Homo sapiens: one gene and its partners. The protein of the gene in region 5 purifies or fractionates together with the protein of the main gene of each other region. This does not show direct contact. Each region holds a gene or a part of one and is shown on either strand. Other genes may lie near its edges. The genes, in order: USP34, EXOC3, TNPO3, SDHB, OCIAD1, COX6C and PPP4R3A.

Region 1 (3,500 bases), on a different chromosome or scaffold from region 5:
TTTTAGAAACCCTAACTTTGTTTGCTTTGACAATACAATGGAAATTATCAAGTTATAGTTAGAATAGGGGGAGACAAATAATGGTTGTCCTGAAAAGAACCCAAACTCAGACATTAGAGAGTCTTGAGGAGGTTCCATAGTGAATGTTAGGAGCATTATTAGCCTGTGAATCTGATTGGCTGGATTTGAATCCCAGCTCTGGCCACTAGCTGTGTAAGCTGAGATAGTCCCATTGTTGTAAGCCTGAGTGAAAGTGGGGATAATAAATGCAATGCCTGCCACATAAAGTTATGACGTCAAATAGTATACATTTGGTAAAGGCTCACAATTCTTATTATAGTTATTACTATTATTGTTTTACCATTATCATTATCATCATCATTGTTTCTCAAGGCAAAATCTAGCCTCCACCTCTTTATCTGTGTGACCTTGGTCTTTGCTTCTCCAAGATTCAGATTTTCCAGAGCACTGTTACCTCCATCCAGGGTCATTGTGAGGATTAAATGAGAAGTTTATACAGCACCTAGGTCAATGCTTTGTTGATAGTAACTGCTTTTACAGGTTAGCGCAACTAATAAGTCACTAACTCCTCAGCATTATAACATAGGCTTAATAAGTTTAACACCAAGTTCTTTCCTTGGGTGTAAGTTTAGCCTTAAAAGACTTCTAAAGATTTTCCAAAGTTAATGTTCTGTAATTAGCATATATGTAATCAAATAGGACTTTTATGTATATCTCATTCTTTCTTTATAACTTAAATATATATTATCTGGTTACAATTTAACACCCAGTTCTTTCCTTTGGTGTAAGGTTAGCCTTAGAAGACTTTTAAAGATTTTCCAAAGTTAATGTTCTATAATTAGCATATATGTAATCTTATATATTGAACTTTTATGTATATCTATTTCTTTCTTTATAACAAGTATATTTTACCATATCTGTATGTTATTACAAAGTAAATTATCATTATTTTTCAATTAAGAAGAAAACTAAGACTGTAGAACATTGAATGATTTGACCTCCTCAGGTACCTTTTGGTAGGTCTTCTGACTGCAAATGCTGGGTTCCCTCTGTTAAATCATACTACTTCCTGAGAAGAAATAAAAGATAAAGTGGGAAAATTCTGCATCTTAGGCAAGCTAAAGAAAAGTGGTTTAAAAATTATTGCCACTTCAAAAATAACAATGGCAGAATAGAAGGTATCTATTTTTATCACCTCTTGGGATCTTTTTGTGGGGCCAAGGGGAAAGCAGAAAGATACTAAAAGAGATGTTCATGTCCCTTTTTATTCATTTTAATTATTAAAGGGAACAGTGGCTTTGTGATTAATGACTGCTGTTCAGTCTATTTTATATCTTACAAGGATCTGACAGTTTTGTTTTACATTTTATAGCTGCAGCTTATCTTCTGGTGTCCCTTATACCAAGCAATTCATTCCGTCAGATGTTCCGGTCAACAAGGTCTTTGCACATCCCAACCCGTGACCTTCCACTCAGTCCAGACACAACAGTAGTCCTACATCAGGTCTACAACGTGCTCCTTGGTTTGCTCTCAAGAGCCAAACTTTATGTTGATGCTGCTGTTCATGGCACTACAAAGCTAGTGCCCTATTTTAGCTTTATGACTTACTGTTTAATTTCCAAAACTGAGAAGCTGATGTTTTCCACATATTTCATGGATTTGTGGAACCTTTTCCAGCCTAAACTTTCTGAGCCAGCAATAGCTACAAATCACAATAAACAGGCTTTGCTTTCATTTTGGTACAATGTCTGTGCTGACTGTCCAGAGAATATCCGCCTTATTGTTCAGAACCCAGTGGTAACCAAGAACATTGCCTTCAATTACATCCTTGCTGACCATGATGATCAGGATGTGGTGCTTTTTAACCGTGGGATGCTGCCAGCGTACTATGGCATTCTGAGGCTCTGCTGTGAGCAGTCTCCTGCATTCACACGACAACTGGCTTCTCACCAGAACATCCAGTGGGCCTTTAAGAATCTTACACCACATGCCAGCCAATACCCTGGAGTGAGTAAAATTGATACTCTTTTATCTGTATCCTCAAATAGATTGGAAATACCTGTTTTTCCCCTGGTGGGAAGTGGTGGCAGAATATAGAATAGTCTCACCATTCTTTCTTAAGAACTTAATGTGTATTTGTTTTCTTAAATACATATATAAAATGCTGTGTTGTTATAAAATTGATAACTGTGTAGATAACTTTTCTTAGGGTGAAGTTAAAGTTGCATATCCAGTAAAACTTACCTGTTTTTTAATTTGTGGTTTTGTAAATGTATTCTTCATGTGTGCCTAATGAAAAAAGCCAGCTTCATGGTACAGTTTTAAGGAATTGAGTACTTTGCTATTTAAAAATCAGATACTTAGCAAAATCTACATGCTGTGGTAAACTGTGAGCTAGACAATTTTATATCTAAAACTAGTAGTATTCCGCAGTATTTTTTCTCAAGCTGCATCCAAACAAATGAAATGCTTAAGAGATCAATCGAGATACATATATATGCAGTCTAAATTGGGTCCCTTTTACTCTGCACACTTACTTGTAGGTTTTATATTAAGTTTCCTCCCCTCGATGTAAAGCTGTCAAACCTGGTTAATAACTTTTCACTGTTGCCTCTTATTCTCTGTTGTAAACTGTACTTTAAAGACAGACCGTCCTTTATAGACGGTCTTTTTTTTTCTAGATGGTGTAATGAGTTGTATAGAATCTCACACCTGGGAAGAATAACCTAATTTCTAGTCAGAGAAAATTAGAATCCCAGGCCGGCATAGTGGCTCACACCTGTAATTTCAGCACTTTGGAGGCAGAGGCGGATCACTCGAGCCCAGCAGTTCAAGACCAGCCTGGGCAACATGGCAAAACTCCATCTCTACAAAAAATACAAAATTAGCTGGGAGTAGTGGTGTGCACCTATAGTCGCAGCTGCTTGGGAGGCTGAGGTGGGAGGATCGCTTGAGCCCAGGAGGTTGAGGCTGCATTGAGACATTGTACTGCACCCTGGGCAACAAAGCAAGACTCTGTCTCAAAAGAAAAAATCAGAATCCCTACAATGCAGGAAAGAGAGTGAGTGTACAAGTACCAAGAAATTGAAAACCAATGCCATAAGAATACAAAATATCAATCTTTCTGACTTCAAAGGGGTCGGGATAGGATTTATTAAGTTTCAGTAAATTTGTCTCTATCATATTCACATAAATAATATTTGATCTAGTTACTAGATGTGATGTCCAGAATTAAATATACTTTGACAAGTACTAGATGAGTTAGAATTTATCCCTCCATGTTATTTATTGCCCTTGACATCAGTGAAATGTAATGTCTTTTATTGTAGAATGTCCTTATCTATTAGAAATTTTCATGAAAATGGTACTTAAGTCAGTTTTTTGCTTTGAAAAATAAGAAGCTGGGGGTTTCAGTTCATTGACAAGTATGTGTTAGAAGAGCAGTCCTCTCCTGACATGTGCATATGAGTCTATAAAAT
Region 2 (3,500 bases), on a different chromosome or scaffold from region 5:
ATGTGGTCCATCCATACAATGGAATATTATTCAGCCTTAAAAGTGAAGGAAATTCTACAATACCACAGCATAGAAGACCCCTGAGGACATCATGCTGAGTGAAATAAGCATGTCACAGAAAGACAGATAATGTGTGATGCCACTTCTATGAGGTCTTCAGAGTCATCCAATTCACAGAGACAGAAGGCAGAATGGTGGTGACCAGGAGCTGGGGCAGAGGGTGCGAAGTCAGTGTTTAATGGGTACAGATTTTCATGTCTGCAAGATGAAAAGAGTTCTGAAGACGGATGTGGCAATGGTTGCACAACAATATGAATGTTCTTAATAGTCCCCAACTGTACACTTAAAAATGGTTAAGACGGCAAACTGTACATATGCATTTTAGAAGAAGAAAAAATGGGGGAGGGGAGCTGTGTACACAGCATTGCTGAGTTATAGGCAATGAGACAAGTCTGAAGGCAACCAAACCAATCTTCTCAATGAAAATTTATCCGTAACAAAAAACATGCATACCACGCAGGCTCATTTGTTCACCAAGGAAAGGAAATTATTTTCAACTGCTGTGGATAAACTAATTCCAGTAATGCACCTTTTTGGTCATCAGGCATTAGTTTAAAAGACCGGAAGGAAATGTAGCCAGCCAATACGAAATAAGAGGAAATTAACTAGAAAGCTGCCAGCTGAGCATCACCAAGGAGACTCCGTCGAGAGGACTTTATTCCTGTTCCAGGCGGCCCACAGTCACCAAGAAGAGCTGCTTTCTGAGTTGGCAGCACAGTGGCGTTCGTGTTGGGCATGCACAAAGAGACACGGACTGCAGCCACACATGTGACCCTACGGATCATGCCCTGGAAGAAGGGCACACACAAAGCAACGGGACAAGGTGCTCGGCAATGCTGCAGCCGCAAGCACGAGAGGAGGGCAGAGAGGACAGGGTGGACGGGACACGGATTACCAAGGTGCGCTGTGGGCAGCTGGGGAGAACCGCGCCAATTCACACGTGGCCTCAGGAGCCGAGCAGCGTCACAGATGATGCAGCACAGCCACTGTGAAGGGTGAGCTGGGGCACGTGACGGCTGGGGATGGGGAAGTGTCATACAGACATCAGGGCAGAGACGTCTGGTAGAGGAACAGGAAGAACTTGCCAAGAGGCCAGAGACAGGAACAAAGAAAGGGAAGGAATCAGACCCTGCCAAGGCTTCTGAGTTGGGGACTGGAAGGATGCTGCTGACCTTGACACAGAGCGGGGACCAAGGGGAGGGATGAGGCTGTGGAAGCAGCTCCTGTCACAGCAAGCAGGAGGAGACTGTGAACACAAATGCTGGGAGCCACCACCCAGGGCCAGCTGGCACCGTTCAGGGACAGGTTACAGGGCCCTTGGCATCCTTCTAACTGAGGCATTCAGGGAGAAGACTGAAAGGGTCACTCCCCCACGGCGCTCAGCCCCGCCTCTGCCCTGGCCTGTGCACACACGCTTCTCCTCCTGCCTGGGAGCTGCTGCTCGCCTCAACCCTTCTGCTCTGGGATCTGCTTGCTCTGTCCCATGCACAGGGTGGCTTCTCCTGCAGCTCCTTTTAAGCATGGGCCACGGCGTCTTCATTCTTCTGCACTCACAGAGTCTAACAGCCACATCGCAAGCAAGGGAACGACACTCAGCCAGGGAATCCCTCCACACTGCATTTGCTGGGCAGCCCGCTTCTGGGCCTCTGTCCTGACACTGAACTACAAGCCTTCTCCTAGCCTTTACATGCTCAGCTGATCACTTCCATCCACGTTCAAAAAAAGACGCTGAGCAGACAAGAATCACACTTACCGTCTACAGGTCTACAGTGCGGGCTGCAAAGCACACTGCACACAGAGCACTCAGTGAGTCATGCAAAGACAGCGTGAGTGGGGGCAAGTGCCTCGGCGTCTGGCTGGTACCTGAGAAGATGTTCTTGAGGTTCTCCACGGCTGCGGCGAGCTGGCTGTGCTGCACCACGGCGTCTTTGACGTCCTTGAGGCTCTCAATGGTGTTGATGCTCTGCCTCCAGTCCTTGCTGACGTCTGCCAGCGACTGCTGGATGTCTTTGACGTCATTCAGGGCGTTGTGGAGCTGGCTGAGGCCTGTGCGCACCCCGTCCAACTGTGACTGGATGGCGGCCTAAAGAGAGACGCCACACGGGTGAGCAGAGCCAATGATAGCCATGCGCTGCCTCCTGAAGAACAAATCTTCCCCAGGAGGGTCAAGTTCAGGAAAGAGCCACTGAGTAGCAGGAAACAGTCAATACCCAGAAAAGAAAATAAAATCAACAAGGATTTAATTGATTCACAGTGTACCTTTTTCTTCATTGCTGCCTGGGAACAGAACAATGATGCATTTTAAAGCCTTGATGAGAAAAGGTCAGGACACTCCTCATCTAGCCTCACACCTGGTGATCCTGGACACTACCACGGGTCTGCCCTGGGCCGTGGCCTGCTACGGTACCTTCAGAAGGATGTCACCCATGCTCTCCCAGGCATCCTAGGTTCCTAAAAGGTCTTGTCTAGGCAGAGAGAACGGTCAGGACTTCACTGGCTTGGGGTGGGGGAGTTCCTGCTGTTCAGCCAGCACCACACTTGGCCCCAGGACGGCTGACCCACAGGACAGAATCGGCACCTGAGCTTCAGATCCGCTCTCTGTCAAATGTGAGTTAAAACAATCTGAACAAAATGCCCTCTAGTGGTGCTCTGTAGAAGAGCTTTAAATAAGACTACTTCTCCTTCCTCCAGTATTGTTTAAAAACTTAATAGACACTTTCAGGGTGTTGTTTTTGTTTCTGTGTTTTTTTTTTCTTTTTGAGACAGAGTCTCACTCTGTTGCCCAGGCTGGAATGCAATGGCACCATCTCGGCTCACCGCAACCTCTGCCTCCTGGGTTCAAGCGATTCTCTTGCCTCAGCCTCCCAAGTAGCTGGGATTACAGGCGTCAACCATCATGCCTGGCTAATTTTTGTATTTTCATAGAGACAGGGTTTCACCATGTTGACCAGGCTGGTCTTGAACTCCTGACCTCAGGTGATCCGCCTGCCTCGGCCTCCCCGAGGTGCTGGGATTACAGGCATGAGTCACCGCACCCGGCCTCAGGGTGTTTAAAAGCTTGTTCCTTTGGTGTTTTCACCATTCCCACTGTCTTCTAAGCAAAGCTACTGAGTGGTAATACACTGCTGAAAGTAACTGCTCAAGAAAGTCCAGCTCTGCCTCCTTGCACATTACCATAAAGGCTAGTTTAGCAAAATCATCATGGTGATGTCAAGCAAGAACCTGAAGCCCAAGACAGATCCTGGGAGTGGGGCAGGTGGCCTCACCTTCAATCTGGCCTCCACGGAGGCCTTCTTCCGCGCTTCTCTCCTGCGATACTGCTCCACCTTGTCCAGCTGGTCCGGGCGCTGGAGCATCCCAGCAACCCTTTGCACTGCTGTCGCAACGGCCTCCCGGTCTGTCTCCTTCATGGTGAAAAAGCTGGTGGAATCCTCACACTG
Region 3 (3,500 bases), on a different chromosome or scaffold from region 5:
GATCAGATTCTCATTACAATCTTTTTCTTTTCCCAGCTGTGCTTTTCTTCTTTGTTCCTTTTGTACTTATTGTAATAAATATTTGGCAAGTCTGAATGCTGTGGCATTTCTGAAAAAGCATTTCTTTTAAAATCACTGTTTTGTTTTAGGCACTGTGCATCCCCACCTTTCAGCTCCTAGAACAGCAGAATGGTCTCCAGAATCACCCTGACACTGTAGATGACCTGTTCCGGCTAGCCACCAGGTAAATCCTTCTGAAGAGCCCATTTCTTAATTGCTCATCCTATCACTGCTTAGTCTTGCCATCTGACCCTTGGTTGTTTTATTCTTGTAAAATGAAGTCACTGGAGTAAGTAGATTAATGATTCATAACCCAAAGGTAAATTGCAAGCTGATATATCCCCAGCAGTGACGCAGAGTATTGCGGGAAGCAAGGGATAAAGGAGCTGAGTTCCTGCCAGGAAGGAGGGCTCACACACAAGACAATGCAGTGTGCCTGGCAAAACACTTGACTAGATCATCTCTACAGTCCTCTGTAGGTTTTAACTGTTCGTGCTGTTGCGATTTCATGTTTCACCTCAACCTTCTCTTTGAGAAGCTTAGCATCCTTTAGATATAATCAGTTTCGGAATAAAGAATGTTTGGGATTTTAAGATGCCTTAGCAGTTATCTCATACTGTATTTCTCAGCTCTACTCACAGCCTACTTTATCAGTAGCACTGATAATATGATTGCCAAACTTCTGCTTGAATTCCTTAGTCCCTAACTAAGGAATTTGAACCAAAACTGTTACCATATCAGCATTAAAAAAAAAAAAAAAAGAAAAATCATTATTTTCGAAACAACAAAAGCCCAACTGTTATATCATTTACAAATGCAAAGTAATGTTGACTTGATTGTTTCATCTTAGGATTGATTTTTTTTCTTTTTTCTTTTTTGAGATGGACTCTCACTCTGTTGCCCAGGCTGGAGTGCAATGGCATGATCTCGGCTCACTGCAACCTCTGCCTCCTGGGTTCAAGTGATTCTCCTACCTCAGCCTCCCGAGTAGTTGGGATTACAGGTGCCCACCACCATGCCCAGCTAATTTTTGTATTTTTAGTAGAGACGGGGTTTTGCCATGTTGATCAGGCTGGTCTCAAACTCCTGGCCTCAGGTGATCCGCCCACCTTGGCCTCCCAAAGTCCTGGGATTACAGGCGTGAGCCACCGTACCTGGCAGGATTGAATATTGAACCCTTTTTTTTTGTTAGTTTTTGGATAGGTTAGAAAAACCCTTTTTTTTTCCTTTTCTTTTTTTTTTTTTTTCAGTTGATAGAATTGTTGGATGGGCTGTCACCCTCTGTTTTCTTTTTTTTTTTTTTTTTTTTTTTTTTTGAGACGGAGTCTCGCTCTGTCGCCCAGGCTGGAGTGCAGTGGCGTGATCTTGGCTCACTGCAAGCTCTGCCTCCTGGGTTCACGCCATTCTCCTGCCTCAGCCTCCCGAGTAGCTGGGACTACAGGCACCCGCCACCACACCCAGCTAATTTTTTGTATTTTTAGTAGAGACGGGGTTTCACTGTGTTAGCCAGGATGGTCTCGATCTCCTGACCTCGTGATCCACCCTCCTCGGCCTCCCAAAGTGCTGGGATTACAGGCCTGAGCCACCACGCCCGGCACACCCTCTGTTTTCTTAGGGTATGTATTCCTTGGAAAACTAGTCCCTAAAAATGTTCTTTATACAAATGATGAAACAAGTTTGGAGTATACTGTACCTTTTTCTGAAGAGATTCTCCCTGTATATTAAAGGAACTTAGAAACCTGATAGTAGTTTAAAGGAAAAAATAAACAAGCAAAACTACTTTCAAAATCCAGCAGCATTTCCCAAGCTTACCTGAACACACAACCTTTTCTTTGAGGGATTCCTGTTGACATCCTGGGAACTGGAATTCTGTGAACTTTAGTTTGGGAAATGCTGTTCTAGCATCTTTAGGACTTTTTAACCTAGGAGAGTTTCTACTTGTAGGTCCTTTTGACTGGTCTTTCTTGATTTATAAAATCTTAGTTGGAAATAGGATGTGGTGACACGTCTTTTAATATACTAATCTTAAGATATGGTCCTTTTTTTTTAAAGAGCAACTTTAGGTTCACTGCAAATTTGAGTGAAAAGTTGCTCCCATATACCCCTCCCTCCTAACACACACAGCCTTCCCCTCTATTAGCATCCCCCACCAGAGTAATACAAACAGTGACCCTATATGAACACATCATTATCACCCAAAGTCCATAGTTTACATTAGGCTTCACTCTTGGTGTACATTCTGTGGGTTTTGACAAATGTGTAATGACATGTATCCACTGTTATAGTATCATACAGAATACTTTCACTGCCAAAAAAAATCCTCTATGTTCTGTCTATTCATCCCTTCTTCCCTGAAACCCCCCACCAACCACTGATCTTTTTTACTGTCTTCATAGTTTTGCCCTTTTACCCTGGCTGCTTTTATAGCCTAATCTTGTCATTTATACCTAGTCTCACTTTCCACACCAGGTTTATTCAGCGTAGCCCTGTCACCTTGCTGCGGAGCCAAGTGGTCATCCCTATCTTACAGTGGGCCATTGCCTCTACTACCCTGGACCACCGGGATGCCAATTGTAGTGTCATGAGGTTTCTACGAGACCTCATTCATACAGGGGTAGCCAATGATGTAAGTATAAAAATGATACCATTTCTACTTAACAGCTTTTATCTCCTATCTCTTTGTCATTCCTTAGGAGAAAACCAGCATCCCAGTATTTCCTTACTTGATCTATATTGGTAGACATATATCATAGTGGATCATTCACTAGCCAAAATATCAACTAAGACACTTGTGCTGGGTGCTTTAGGCTATATAAAGCAGTCTAAAACTGTTCATGCTCCCAAATCATTTGGTGTCTAGTTGAAGAGAGAAACAAGTTTAAAGAGTTAAGTAACAACAAGATGCCAGTGTTTGGTGTTTTTCATTTGTTTTTGAAACAGGGTCTTGCTCTGTCGCCTAGGCTGGAGTACAGTGATGTGAATCTCAAGGGATCCTCAGCTACTGAGTAGCCAGGACTACAGACATTCAACACCATGCCTGGCTAGTTTTTATATTTTTTGTAGAGATGGCATTTCACCATGTTGCCCAGGTTGGTCTTGAACTCCTGGCCTCAAGTGATCCTCCCACCTTGGCCTCCAGTATTTGATTGTCAGATGAGTGATAAAAGTCATGATTGGTATGAGATCAGACGAGGGAAAGCTCTAGACCAAAAAGAGTTGGAATAACTTTATGGAAGGGGAGGGATTTAAATGAAGCCATGAATTAGAGGTAGAATTTTGATGGATTAGAGAGGCAGATAGTCATACTGCCTCTAAGCCAAGATCAGAGCAAGTCAGAATAGTACTAAGTTTGTTAGTAGACAACTAAGCAGTGGGAGTAGTAAAGTGCTTCACAGGAATTTCGAAGGTAGGTTTGATTAGATGTGGAGTAGAATTGTAGA
Region 4 (2,406 bases), on a different chromosome or scaffold from region 5:
GCATCTTCAGTGGTGGGGCCTGGCTGTGTGTTTCTTCAGAAGCTCTGCGAGTGACTCTAAGGTGCATTCCTGGTCACAAACCTGTGCATGGAGGGGATGGGTGCAGCAGACAACTGAGACAGCCAAGAACAGGTTCTCTGTGCCTTGCCCTCCCTTCTGTAAAACAGGGCTGGAAGTTGGGACTGAGACATAGACATAGGCCGATCATGAAACTGGAAGGGACTTGAAAACCATCAAGTTTAATCCCCTTATACAGATGGGGAAATTGAGCCCCAGGTGGGGAGGGGAGTGACTCGCCCCAGATCACTGTCAGGTCAGTGGGAAGGTAGGACTAGAGTTAGGCCGTCTGCCTCCCCATCCAGTGCTCTTTCTTCCTGCATGGATTGGGTATGTACCAACCTTCTAAGTCTAAACACCCTTACTGACCCTGTGGGGACCGGAAATACACAGGTAGATCCAGATTCAGAAGGATATACAGTGAAAATTCTCCCTCCCACTCCACCCAGCCACCTCCCTAGAAGTCAGATTCTTGTGTGAACTTCAGAGGTGTTTTATGCTGCACACAAATGCATATGTGTCCTCTTCTGTCTTTCTTATATCACATTTATCTGTATTTTTTCACCCACTATATTTTGGAGATTATCCCATGTTGGTATATGAAGAGTGTCTTTTTGACCAGCCTGGACAACATAGTGAGATCCCATCTCTACAAACAAAATTTTTTTTAATTAGCCAGGTGTGGTGGCACGCACCTGTAGTTTCAGTTACTTGAGAGGCTGAGGCCGGAGGATCACTTGAGCCAGGTGTTCCAGGCCACAGTGAACTATGATCACACTTCAGCCTGGATGACAGAGCAAGACCCTGTCAAAAAAATATATATTTTTTCTTTCTCTTCTTCTCTCAAGATCTCTTTTCTTTCTTTCCTTTTCTTCTTTCTTTCCACAACACTTTTTTAGGGGGGTAGACTTATCCTTCTAAAATGAGGGGAACCTTCACTAACGTCAGATGAGTACTTGTCTCATTTTACCAAGTACTTGCTTGGTAAAAGCAAGTACTTGGTAAAGTACTTCCTACTTTCTACTTCAATGAAGCTGGCATTCAGTGGGTTTAATTATTGTGCCTCCTGCAAAGCAGATGTTAACAGCTGTAGGGGCAAACTGCAGCTAATACCAATGGTATTGGCCAGTTGAAATCATCATGGTTTTACAAAGGGTTAATAGAGAGGGTAGTTTCTTCCACATACTTTTGAGAGCTGGTATATGCTGATTTCTGCTGCTGCCTATTTAATAATGATGATGTAAAAGATTTAGAGATGTCTGGCTGATTTTGACATTGGCCTGTAGTCCTAGAAGAGACACTACCCTGAGTGTCTTTGAGCAGTCAGAGAGTGCACCTCTGCCCTGGGCCTGTTTACCTGTTAGAGTGAGCCACACAAGAAGGAATTCAACGTGGCAGAGCTCTTGCCAGAGGGAGCTGACCATCTTCAAATGTTAAAAAAGGTAGACAGAAGAGAGCCCTTAGCCCAACCCCTATGGTTTTGAGGGACTTGATTTGCATTCACCTTGCTTGGACACTGAACCAGCTGAGGAAGGAGTTTCACCCAAGATTGTGGGTTTTCCCTTTCAGTTTCAGTTATCATTTGTTATTGATTCTTTTCTCTTTTTTCAAGGGTCTGAATCCAGGGAAAGCTATTGCAGAGATCAAGAAAATGATGGCAACCTATAAGGAGAAGAAAGCTTCAGTTTAACTGTTTCCATGCTAAACATGATTTATAACCAGCTCAGAGCTGAACATAATTTATATCTAATTTGAGTTCCTTTAAAGATCTTGGTTTTCCATGAATACAGCATGTATAATAAAAATTTTAAGAAATAAATGTTATTCTACTTTATTAACAAAAAAAAAAGAACCTGTTCCTTTACTTGCCGCAGGGGAATGTGAAGGTGCCAGGAGTCCTTGTCCTTGGAGAGATGGACAGGGCTTCAGAGCTGAGCGGGGGTGGGGGTACCCTAGCTGGAAGGAGGTGATGAGCCGTGGAACTGACATCAGCAGGGCCTGCAGCTTGTTCCCAGCTTTGCCACTCACCAGCTAGACAACCTTGGACAAGTTCCTTCACCTCTTTGCTGCTCCATTCGCCCATCTGTAAGATGGGATCCATAATTGTGCCTACTTCATTCATCTGGTATGAGAATGCCTGGCACTTATTCTGAACACTCAGTTAGTGTTAGTGTTCTGTATCTTCCCAGTTTCTATAGTTTTCAGTACCAGAATTACTGAAAACCAAATCTTGGTAAGTCTTTGGATACGTCGGTGAGGCCAGGTTTGAGATTCCTCCAGCACAGAGCAATGACCCTGGTCAGTTGTGAATCCAGTTAGTTCCACAAATGACCTCGTGGGGCCTCTCAC
Region 5 (3,500 bases):
GCCAGAATGGGAAGAATTTCTTAGAGAACTTGGCTGTATACTCCAGCAACAGTTCTTTTTTTTTTTTTTTTTTTTAAATCTTTGAAGATTATATAGAGTAGATAGGATAAAATGATCTATTTTTAAGTCTTGATGACACAGGATTAAGAAAAAGGCAAGTGTGATAGAGGGGATTTGGGATTATTGTAGTGTTGGGCTAACGGTTAAATAGATGCTAAGGTGTCCAGATTTATTTCTGGCTGATAAATGTATGCTGCTGCAGGTGTTTAACAATCTAAATAGCTGTGACAGGTTTATGCCAAAAGTACATTAAAGGGTAGTGAACAATGTCAGGATGCCCGTGTATACCAGACTCTTAATAGTGGGACATGTGGTATATGAACAGTACAAAGCTAAGTGATTTCTGTGCATTAAAACAGATAAATCACAGGTTGAAAAGACAAAAAGCGGCTGGGCTTGGTGGCTCACACCTGTAATCCCAGCACTTTGGGAGGCTGAGGCAGGCAGATCACCTGAGGTCAGGAGTTCGAGACCAGCCTGACCTATATGGTGAAACCCCGTCTCTACTAAGAATACAAAAATTAGCTGAGCATGGTGGCAGGTGCCTGTAATTCCAGCTACTCGAGAGGCTGAGACAGGAGAATCGCTTGAACCCGGGAGGCAGAGGTTGCAGCAAGCCAAGATCGTGCCACTGCACTCCAGCCTGGGCGACAGAGCGAGACTCCATCTCAAAAAAAAAAAAAAAGACAAAAAGCATGTGATAAGGACAGGCTGAAAGACAGCTTGTTAATTTTATACCATATCTACATTACTGAGAAATTACAGCAGCCAAAAAATTACTGTATTAATAGGTAGCATTTCACTCTCAAAACAGATAACCAAGGTGTTGTTGCATATTATAGCATCAAACATTGAAATGTAGAAGCTTGGTTGTAACCAGGTGATAGGAAGTTCAACGTATAATTATCAGAAGGATGATAATCATACATAGGAAATTTTGTACTTTAACATTTGTACTTTCGAATTAGATAGTCTATGCTGTATGTGACATTTATGTAAACAAATAATGGCATCTGTTACTTTGGAGAGTATCACCTTGGATTAGAAAAAGGTGATAAAAGCATTTACGAATTTATAAAAAAGCACTTACTAAGGTAATTTTTTATACATTTTTTAGGTCTGTTAAAATACTTATCCTCTTCTAAAATTAGACTTGTTGATCTAGGGACCATTCTCTTTCCTTAAGATAACTATGTTTCTATACTGACCTACATTCCATTAATCTGAAATATAACTATGAAGGCATCTTATTTCTAGGTGCTTAAAATCGTGACCCTATGCACTGACCTAAAATCACTATGTCTGTGCCCAAACACACAGGTAGTGAAGACCCTGTGCATATAGGGTCAGTTTATTGCATATTCATGTTAAAATAGTTCTCAAACTCCAGAATTACTAAAAAGATGTATCAGTTCATATTTGTATCAGCTGGAGTCTATGAATAATATTTCATATATGTGTACTACTAGTTTTCAAATGATACAGTATAAGAGTGATAAGAGTATGGGCCAGGCATGGTGGCTCACACCTGTAATCCCAGCATTTTGAGAGGCCGAGGTGGGTGGATCACTTGAGGTCAAGAGTTCAAGACCAGCCTGGCTAACATGGTGAAACCCTGTCTCTACTAAAAATACAAAAATTAGCCAGGTGTGGTGGCACATGCCTGTAGTCCCAGCTTCTTGGGAGGCTGAGGCAGGAGAATGGCTTGAACTCGGGAGGCAGAGGTTGCATTGAGTCAGGATTGTGACATTGCACTCCAGCCTGGGTGACAAAGCGAGACTTCATCTCAAAAAAAAAAAAAAAAGAGTATGGACTCTGAGGCCTGATTGGCTGGATTCAAATCCCAGCTCCACACACAGTAGCTGTGAGATTTTGGACAAGTTCCTGAGGTCTGTGCTATACTTTTCTTATCTATAAAATGGGGATAACTGCCTAGCTCATGAAATTATTATAGGGATTAATGCAATTTAATTAAGTGTTGGCTATCTTTATTAAATAGCTATTAGTGTTATTATGATTAATGAAATAAAAATTTTTATTGACTACAGTTAGGAATATAGAGTAGCTTTTTGTTACTGTGAGGGGAGAAGAGTTCAAATAATTGTAGGGATTCTTGTATATATTGAATATAGTTTGGGACTGTGGTAATAATGTGCACTAGGTTTTGGTCAGCAGTATTACTGATTTGCCTATAGAGACAGATTATTTAACAAAATAGATATTACATACTGTAGTGGAAAAGGCCACTGACTAGGGAGTCAGGAGACTTGGGTTCTGATCTCAGCATTACCACAAACTAACCAGCTGTGTTGCTTTGAGCAAATGACTTGTCTTTTCTGGATATTAGTGTACTCAGATTGGAATGAGGACTAGATAATCTCTGAAGCCTCTTTCAGTCTTACCATTGTCTTTTTCTGTGACATAAAGTAGAATACCTGAGTTGGAATGAGACCTTAGGTCTAATCCATTATTCCTTTATAGCATGAGAAGAAGCTATGCAAAGACATTGTGGTGAATGGCAGAACTAGTACTAGAATCTCCTCGAACAGACTATTACTCTGCATTAAATGGGGAAAGCATTATCCATTGTAGAAATGGCCAGCTAACTCATTGCCTTTTATTCTTATATGATTCTTCAGTGCTTCATGTTGCAATCCTTGAGTCAAGCTGGAGAAAAATGATTGCAAATTGTACTGGTGCTGTAATTAAAAGGGATTTGTCCTTTGCAAAACCTTAAATGATAAATGATAATGCATGAAGGCATTCTAACTAGCCAACATTAAAGAAACCATATTTCCAGCAAAGGTAAAATCTGTTAGTAAGTAGGATAGCATGAATTCAGACCTTAGCGTTTGTGCAATTTGTGTGTGATGGCAAAGTTAATGCCCTATTCCAAAGTGATGGATTTTAATCATGAAATCTGTAATAATTCAAATGTCTTAATTACTTTGGTTCTTAAATTGTCCATATATGGTTTAGACCAGAGTTGAACAAACTAGCCCATGGACCAAATCTGTTTTTGTATGCATGAGCTAAGAATTGTTTTTACATTTTTAAATGGTTAAGAGGCTGGGTGCAGTGGCTCACGCCTGTAATCCCAGCACTTTGGGAGGCTGAGGTGGGCTGATTACTTGAACCAAGGAGATCGAGACCAGCCTGGGCAACTTGGCGAAACCTCATCTCTACAAAAAAAAAAAAAAAAAAGAAAAAAGACAAAAAATTAGCCAGGCATGGCGGTGCATGCCTGTAGTCCCAACCACTTGGGAGGCTGAAGCAGGAGGATCATCTGAGCCGGCAGGTTGAGGCTGCAGTGAGATGAGATTGTACCACTGCATTCCAGCCTTGGTGATAGAGTGAGACTTTGTCTAAAAACATAAAATAAGATAAAATGGTTAAGAAATCAAAGGAAAAGAATATTTCATTACGTGTGAAATTACATG
Region 6 (3,500 bases), on a different chromosome or scaffold from region 5:
GTTGTGTGAGATACTCAGTGTTTTATTATAAGCTAGGCTTTGTGTTAGATGATTTTCTTCAGCTGTAGGCTAACATAAGTGTTCTGAGCACATTTAAGGTAGGGAAGGCTAAGCTATGATGTAAGTTAGGTGTATTAAATGCATTTTCAACTTAAGATATTTTAAACTTATGATGGTTTTATCAGAATGTAACCTGATGGTAAGTTAAGGAGCATCTATAATATAAAATTTGCCATCTTAACCATTTTTAATTGTACAGTTTAGTAGTGTTAAGTTCATTCACATTGTTGTGCAACCAGTCTCCAGAACTCGTCATCTTACAGAATTGAAACCCTATATCCATTAAGCAACCCATTCACACCTCCACTCAGACCCTGGCAGCCACTGTGTTACTTTCTAAGAATTTGGCTACCCCAGGCATCTCATAAGTAGAATCACACAGTATTTGTTTTCTTGTGACTGGCTTATTTCACTTAGCGTAGTGTACTCAAGGTTCATCCATGTTACAGCATGTGTCAGAATTTCCTTTCTTTTTAAAGCTGAATGATCTATTTTAGTTGTGTCACATTGTTATCCATTCATCCATCAGTAGATGCTTGGGTTGCTTCCACTTTTTGATTGTTGTGAGTGATGCTGTGAACCTAGGCATGCAAATATTCCTTCAAGGCCTTGCTATCAATTCTTTTGGGGTATATTCAAAAGTGGAATTCCTGGATCATATGATTTTTAATTTCTTAAGAAACTGCCATACCCTTTTCCATAGTGGCTGCACCATTTTACACTCTTTCCATCCTCCCCAACACTTGTTAATTTTTTTTTTAACAGGGTCTCCCTCTGTCACCCAGGCCGTAGTGCTGTAGTGCGATCATGGCTCACTGCAGCCTCAACCTCCCAGGCTCAAGGGATCTTCCTGCCTCAGCCTCCCAAGAAGCTGGCACTATAGGCATGTGCCACCACACCTGGCTAACTTCTTTATTTTTAGTAGAGACAGGGTTTCACCATATTACCTGGGCTGTGCTTGAATTCCTGGGCTCAGGCGATCCGTCCACCTTGGCCTCCCAAAGTGTTGGGATTACAGGCGTGAGCCACTGTGCCTGGCATAATTTTGGTATTTTTTGATAGTAGCCATCCTAATAGGTATGAGGTGGTATCATTGTGGTTTTGATTTGCATTTCCCTGATTATTTGTGTTCTTGAGCATCTTTTCATGTACTTATTGGCCATTTGTATGTTATCTTTGGAGAAATGTTTATTCAGTTCTGCTCATTTTCAAATTTGGTTTTTTGTTTATTGGTTGAGTTGTTCTGTATATATTCTGGATATTAACCCCTTATCAGATATGATTTGTAAATATTTTCTCCCATTTCATAGGTTGCCTTTTCACTCTGTTGTGTCCCTTGATGCACAGAAATTTTGATGTCGAATTTATTTTTATTTTTGTTCTGTGTGCTTTTAGTGTCATATTCAATAAATCATTGCCAAATCCAATGTCATGAAGTCTTTTTTATGTGTTCTTCTAAGACTTTTATAGTTTTAGCTCTTATGTTTAGATCTTTGATTCACTTGAATTTTTGTGTAGGGTGTAAAGATCCAACTGTATTCTTTTACATGTGGTATCCAGTTTTCCCGAAATCATTTAAGATTGTCCTCTTCCATGGAGTGGTCTTGGTACCTTGGTGAAATCATTTGACTCTAAATGCGAGAGTTTATTTCTGGGCTATTTCTTTAGTCTGTATGTCTGTCTTCGGGGCAGTACTACACTGTTTTGATTACAGTAGTCCGTTTTATCTAAGATATGTTTCAAGACCCCTCTAGTGGATTCTTGAAACCACAGATAGTACCAAACCCTGTATATATTATGTTGTTTTTCGTGTACGTACATACCTATGATGACGTTTAACTCATAAATTAGACATAGTAAGAGATGAGCAACAATAACAAAATAGAACAATTGTAGTGTATAGTAATAAAAGGTGAATGTGATCTCTCAATATCTTGCTGTACTGTACTCACCTGTTTTTGAACCACAGTTGACTGTGGGTAGAACTAAAGCGGTGGAAGGTTAAACCACAAATAAGGGATGACTGCTACACTGTAGCTTTGTAGTATGCTTTAAAATCAGTAAGTGTGAGTCCTCTAGCTTTGTTCTTTCTTTCACCCCACCCGGAGGGTGCTCTAGCTATTTGTGGTTCCTTAAGAGTCTGTGAATTTTAGGATGGATTTTTCTATTTCTGTAAAAATGCCATTGGGATTTTGATAGGGATTGCATTAAATCTGTAGATTACTTTGGTAGTATGGACATCGTAACAATATTAAGTATTCCAATCCATGAACACAGGATGTCTTTCCTCTTATTTGTATCTTTAATTTCTTTTAGCAGTAGTTTGCATCTTTAATTTCTTTTAGTGTTGCTACTCTCTTACTATGCCTAATTTATGAGTTAAGCTTTATTATAGGTATGTGTATATATAGGAAAAAACGTAGCTGTATAGGGTTTGGTACCATCCATAGTTTCAGTAATTCACTGGAAGGGTCTTGAAACATATCACCTTGGATAAAAGGAGACTACTATAATCAAAACAATGTGTCCAAGGACACACATTTCTTTCCGTACTTTTCCTTTATTTTATAGTGACATGTTTCAGTTTCCTTCTTACTTCCTTATGTGTATATTCTGTATTTTCTTTGTGGTTACCATGGGGATTGCATGAATGAGATTTGCTAATTTTTTTAGCAGTATACAGGTATATATCTGTTTCATCTAGGTCAGTGTTTAAGTCTTTCATATTCCTGATTAAATACATTCCTAAGTATTATTTTTGGTGCTATTATAAATAGAATTATTTTCTTAATTTCCTTTATTAGGCATTCCTTTATTTCCTTCATTGTTGGTGTGTAGAAAGAGCTGATTTTTGTATCCTCCAACTTAGTAGAATTCATGTATTCTGACACTTGTGTGTTAGAAATCTTTAGGGTTTGCTGGAGGTAAGATTATATGATCTGTAAACAGATAGTTTTACTTACTCCTTTCCTTTTTGGATGTTGCTTATTCCTTCTTGCCTCATTGCTCTGGCTAGGACTTCCAGTACTACAATGAATAGAAGTGGCAAGAGCGGGCATCCTTGTCTGGTTCTAGGTATTAGAGGAAAAGCTTTCACGTTTTCCATGTTCAGTATACTAGACTTGTCCTTTTTGGCCATTGTTGGGTTGAAGTACATTCCTTCTGTTGATAGTTTTGATCATGAAAGGATGTTGAATTTTGTCAAGTACTTTTTCTGCATTTTTTGAGATGTGTTTTTTATCCTTCATTCTGTCAGTGTGGTATGTCACATCTATTGATTTGCATATGTTGAACTATCCTTGCATCCTAGGGATAAATCCCACTTAATCATAGTACATGATTCTTTTAATGCGATGTCAAATCTGGTTTGCTAGTGTTTTGTTGACGATTTTTGCATCTGTGTTAAAGGATTTGGCCTATAGTTTTCTCGTGTGTTTGTC
Region 7 (3,500 bases), on a different chromosome or scaffold from region 5:
CACACACACACACACACGTTGTTTTTTATTCTTTGATGCCTGTGGTATTGTAAGAATAATAGGTCTTTGGGAGACTGAGGTGGGTGGATCACTTGAGGTCGGGAGTTCGAGACCAGCCTGACCAACATGGCAAAACCTCGTCTCTACTAAAACTACAAAAATTAGCCAGGCGTGATGGTGGACACCTGTAATCCCAGCTGCTCAGGAGAATGAGGCAGGAGAATCGCTTGAATCCAGGAGGCAGAGGCACATGCCTGTAATCCCAGTTACTCCAGAGGCTGAGACAGGAGAATCATTTGCACCTGGTAGGCAGAGGTTGCATTGAGCCAAGGTCGCACCGCTGCAGATAAGTGTAATATGACTTGGAAGATCTTTTAAGACTTTACCTCAGGTGTATAAGTAAAATTTATTTGAAACCTGAATTTGTTAAGTATAGAAAGGAAGACAATAAATGTAGTAAGAGCTGCCTGGTAGCACACATTACATATAAAGCAGTATGTTTAATCATGTCTGTTCCTGTTTAGAAAATTTTGTATTTCTAAAATATTAGCCAGTGATAGGCAAAAAAAGGAAAAGTATGAACTAAAATACTGAGTTCTCCTGATCCTTTTCTTTAGCTCCATATGGTTCTGTTTTTGTTATGTGGGGATTTGTCACTTCTGTGTTTTCTTGGTCTTCATACATGTAAAATGCCAGTTTTATTCATTAAGTATGAATAATTTCAAGTTGTTAAATCTTTGCTTCCCTGTAATGTGCTTTGTAAAATACTGGCTGCCAATATGTCTGTTTCTCTTGATGCTGGACACTTCTATCCAAAGTGCTGCTGTGAAGGCTGTAGCATTTTACAAATGTTTTGGCAAGAAGTGATTGAGGTACAGTTTAATGCAGGTTCCTGCCCACTTTGTATAGCCCCATGCACACAAAATAAATATCACACCCTCTTAACATTGACTGCTTCCTTTGTAGTACCATAAACATTCTTATTTTCTCTATTTCTGTACCCCCAACTGCAGCAGTTCAGAGAATGTCTTTTTTAACCATTTGATACCCATTTGGTAGAATATAGTATATTGGAGATGTGTCTTGAAATTGGATGCCATTTGGGTAGCAAACATGGTCAAGATCATATTAATGAGGTATGACCTATTTGTTCATTTTAGAAAAAGTAAAGGTGAGAATAACCAAACTAACTTAGTGCCACAGAAGATTTTTCTGGAGCACTCACAACAGTGAATGTGGAGCCAGTAATCTAGTGGGAGCTTGTATATACATCCATGTGTATGTGTATTTAGAGTGAGGCATGTCTAGGGCTTAAGTGGTATTGAATCTACTTCCACTAGCTGAGGTAGTAATTAAAATCTTGGTCGAGCATGGTGGTTCATGTGCGTAATCCCAGCACTTCAGGAGGCCCAGGCCAGTGGATTGCTTGAGGCCACGAGTTCAAGACCAGACTGGCCAACATGACAAAACCCCATCTCTGCTACAAGTACAAAAATTAGCTGGGTGTAGTGGTGTGTGCCTGTAGTCCCAGCTGCTAAGGAGACTGAGACAGGAGAATTGCTTTAACCTGGGAGGCGGAGGTTGCAGTGAGCCGAGATGGCACCACTGTGCTCTACCTGGGTGACAGAGCAAGACTCTGTCTCAAAAAGCAAAACAAAACAAAAGCCAAGATCTTGATGAAAAAATAGTGATGAGAAACATTGACCGGACAATCATGAAGGCTCTGCCACCTTAATTGGGCTTGGGTAAATTTTAAAATCCAAGTCTCAATTATAAAATGAGGAAGTAAAACAAAAAGTTCTAAATTTTGCTTTTTAAATAATTGAGTCATTCTCTGTATCTTTAAAACACTAAAGTAGCTTTGTCTTCATTTTCATTCTCATTTGAGAGGTTGTAGAACTACCTTTTAAAAGTTAATAAGGTTATAAAACCTATGAAAGTGAGGGGTCAGCAAGTGTTGGTCCTGCTATTTTTGTAAGTAATATTTTATTGAAATACAGCCATATCCATTCATTTCCAGTTGTCTGTGACTACTTTCATATTACTGGAGCAGGGTTGAGTACTCGTAGTAGAGATCACATGGGCCGCAAAGCTCAAAATATTTACTACCTGGCCTTTATATAGGCTTAGAAAATAGAGCCTTGACAAAATTTTATACTTTAATAGTGTGGTTTTTCCTTCTGTTAAAAAAAAAAAAAAAGACAGCATTGCCAATACCACCTTTCCTTTTTATAGTTATTGCTGTGTATATTAAAGCATTCCTGAAATTATATTTTAGGACAATCTTAGCATTAACATAATTGCATTTGTCCTTTGTTTCACAGGAAGATGAAAAATTTCTGACAGATTTGTTTGCACAACTAACAGATGAAGCAACAGATGAGGAAAAAAGACAGGAATTGGTAAGAAATTAGATACTATGAAAGGCATAAAAATAAAACAACTGGCCGGGCTTGGTGGCTCACGCCTGTAAATCCCAGCACTTTGGGAGGCCGAGGTGGGTGGATCACGAGGTCAGAAGTTTGAGACCAGCCTGGCGAACATGGCGAAACCCCATCTCTACTAAAAAGTACAAAAATTAGCCAAGCATGGTGGCGGGCACCTGTAATCCTAGCTACTCAGAAGGCTGAGGCAGGAGAATCGCTTGAACTCGGGAGGTGGAGGTTGCAGTGAGCCAAGATCGTGCCATTGCACTCCAGCGTCGGCAACAAGAGCAAGACTCCGTCTCAATAAATAAATAAATAAAATAAACTTTTTATATCACTTATCCTTTTTTCTAATTTCAGGTTAACTTTTTAAAAGAATTTTGTGCGTTTTCCCAAACGCTACAGCCTCAAAACAGAGATGCTTTTTTCAAGACTTTGTCAAACATGGGCATATTACCAGCTTTAGAAGTCATCCTTGTAAGTTTTGTGTCTCCTCATTTTTAATTACCATTTTTTAATCCCAAAATTAATATTTTTAATGCTACATGCAAATATTCTATTATAGCCAATATTTGAAATTAGCTGCGTAGTTCATTAAGTTAAAGAAGCTGTAAAATTCCAATATTAGACAGTTTTCACACAGTATTGAAAGAATGCAGTAAAGGAATTTCCCATAATTTAATGATAGTTTGTCAGCTTTGCAGCTTATTAGCTGAAATGTTAAAATAGGCAAACAAATAAATGATTTAGAAAGTATAATTTTATCCGTACAATAAGAGTTTTATATGCAGAAGAATTTCTTTGACCTTTCTTTTACATTGAAGTTTTTTCATATGTTTTGTTAGGTTTGGATATTTACATAGCTATAGGTTCCGTATTTTTATAAATACAGGAAAAATAAATGTTTTTTGTCTGCAGGGCATGGATGATACACAGGTGCGAAGTGCTGCTACTGATATATTCTCATACTTGGTTGAATATAATCCATCCATGGTACGAGAGTTTGTCATGCAGGAGGCACAACAGAATGATGATGTAAGTAAGAAGTTAACAGAGCAAAAAATAACCAGCAAG

The links.
Region 1: the proteins of OCIAD1 (region 5) and USP34 purify together in Homo sapiens (co-immunoprecipitation; 2 studies listed by BioGRID and IntAct, with this or other methods). This does not show direct contact.
Region 2: the proteins of OCIAD1 (region 5) and EXOC3 purify together in Homo sapiens (co-immunoprecipitation; 2 studies listed by BioGRID and IntAct, with this or other methods). This does not show direct contact.
Region 3: the proteins of OCIAD1 (region 5) and TNPO3 purify together in Homo sapiens (co-immunoprecipitation; 2 studies listed by BioGRID and IntAct, with this or other methods). This does not show direct contact.
Region 4: the proteins of OCIAD1 (region 5) and SDHB purify together in Homo sapiens (affinity purification with western blotting; 2 studies listed by BioGRID, with this or other methods). This does not show direct contact.
Region 6: the proteins of OCIAD1 (region 5) and COX6C purify together in Homo sapiens (affinity purification with mass spectrometry; 2 studies listed by BioGRID and IntAct, with this or other methods). This does not show direct contact.
Region 7: the proteins of OCIAD1 (region 5) and PPP4R3A purify together in Homo sapiens (co-immunoprecipitation; 2 studies listed by BioGRID and IntAct, with this or other methods). This does not show direct contact.

What each region holds. Positions count from the first base shown.
Region 1 is NC_000002.12:61,212,588-61,216,087, reverse strand, and holds part of USP34 (ubiquitin carboxyl-terminal hydrolase 34), read left to right. Parts: intron 1-1,393; coding exon 1,394-2,028; intron 2,029-3,500. UniProt on the Homo sapiens protein: Ubiquitin hydrolase that can remove conjugated ubiquitin from AXIN1 and AXIN2, thereby acting as a regulator of Wnt signaling pathway.
Region 2 is NC_000005.10:446,176-449,675, reverse strand, and holds part of EXOC3 (exocyst complex component 3), read right to left. Parts: 5' UTR 3,471-3,500; coding exon 3,327-3,470; intron 2,856-3,326; exon of another isoform or gene 2,468-2,855; intron 2,338-2,467; exon of another isoform or gene 2,284-2,337; intron 2,144-2,283; coding exon 1,924-2,143; intron 1-1,923. UniProt on the Homo sapiens protein: Component of the exocyst complex involved in the docking of exocytic vesicles with fusion sites on the plasma membrane.
Region 3 is NC_000007.14:128,971,612-128,975,111, reverse strand, and holds part of TNPO3 (transportin-3), read left to right. Parts: intron 1-149; coding exon 150-244; intron 245-2,529; coding exon 2,530-2,686; intron 2,687-3,500. UniProt on the Homo sapiens protein: Importin, which transports target proteins into the nucleus. Specifically mediates the nuclear import of splicing factor serine/arginine (SR) proteins, such as RBM4, SFRS1 and SFRS2, by recognizing phosphorylated SR domains.
Region 4 is NC_000001.11:17,018,222-17,020,627, reverse strand, and holds the end of SDHB (succinate dehydrogenase [ubiquinone] iron-sulfur subunit, mitochondrial isoform 1 precursor), read left to right. Parts: intron 1-1,669; coding exon 1,670-1,747; 3' UTR 1,748-1,906; downstream 1,907-2,406. UniProt on the Homo sapiens protein: Iron-sulfur protein (IP) subunit of the succinate dehydrogenase complex (mitochondrial respiratory chain complex II), responsible for transferring electrons from succinate to ubiquinone (coenzyme Q).
Region 5 is NC_000004.12:48,837,588-48,841,087, forward strand, and holds part of OCIAD1 (OCIA domain-containing protein 1), read left to right. Parts: intron 1-3,500. UniProt on the Homo sapiens protein: Maintains stem cell potency. Increases STAT3 phosphorylation and controls ERK phosphorylation. May act as a scaffold, increasing STAT3 recruitment onto endosomes. Involved in integrin-mediated cancer cell adhesion and colony formation in ovarian cancer.
Region 6 is NC_000008.11:99,883,708-99,887,207, reverse strand, and holds part of COX6C (cytochrome c oxidase subunit 6C), read left to right. Parts: intron 1-3,500. UniProt on the Homo sapiens protein: Component of the cytochrome c oxidase, the last enzyme in the mitochondrial electron transport chain which drives oxidative phosphorylation.
Region 7 is NC_000014.9:91,475,811-91,479,310, reverse strand, and holds part of PPP4R3A (serine/threonine-protein phosphatase 4 regulatory subunit 3A), read left to right. Parts: intron 1-2,324; coding exon 2,325-2,402; intron 2,403-2,786; coding exon 2,787-2,903; intron 2,904-3,344; coding exon 3,345-3,500. UniProt on the Homo sapiens protein: Regulatory subunit of serine/threonine-protein phosphatase 4. May regulate the activity of PPP4C at centrosomal microtubule organizing centers.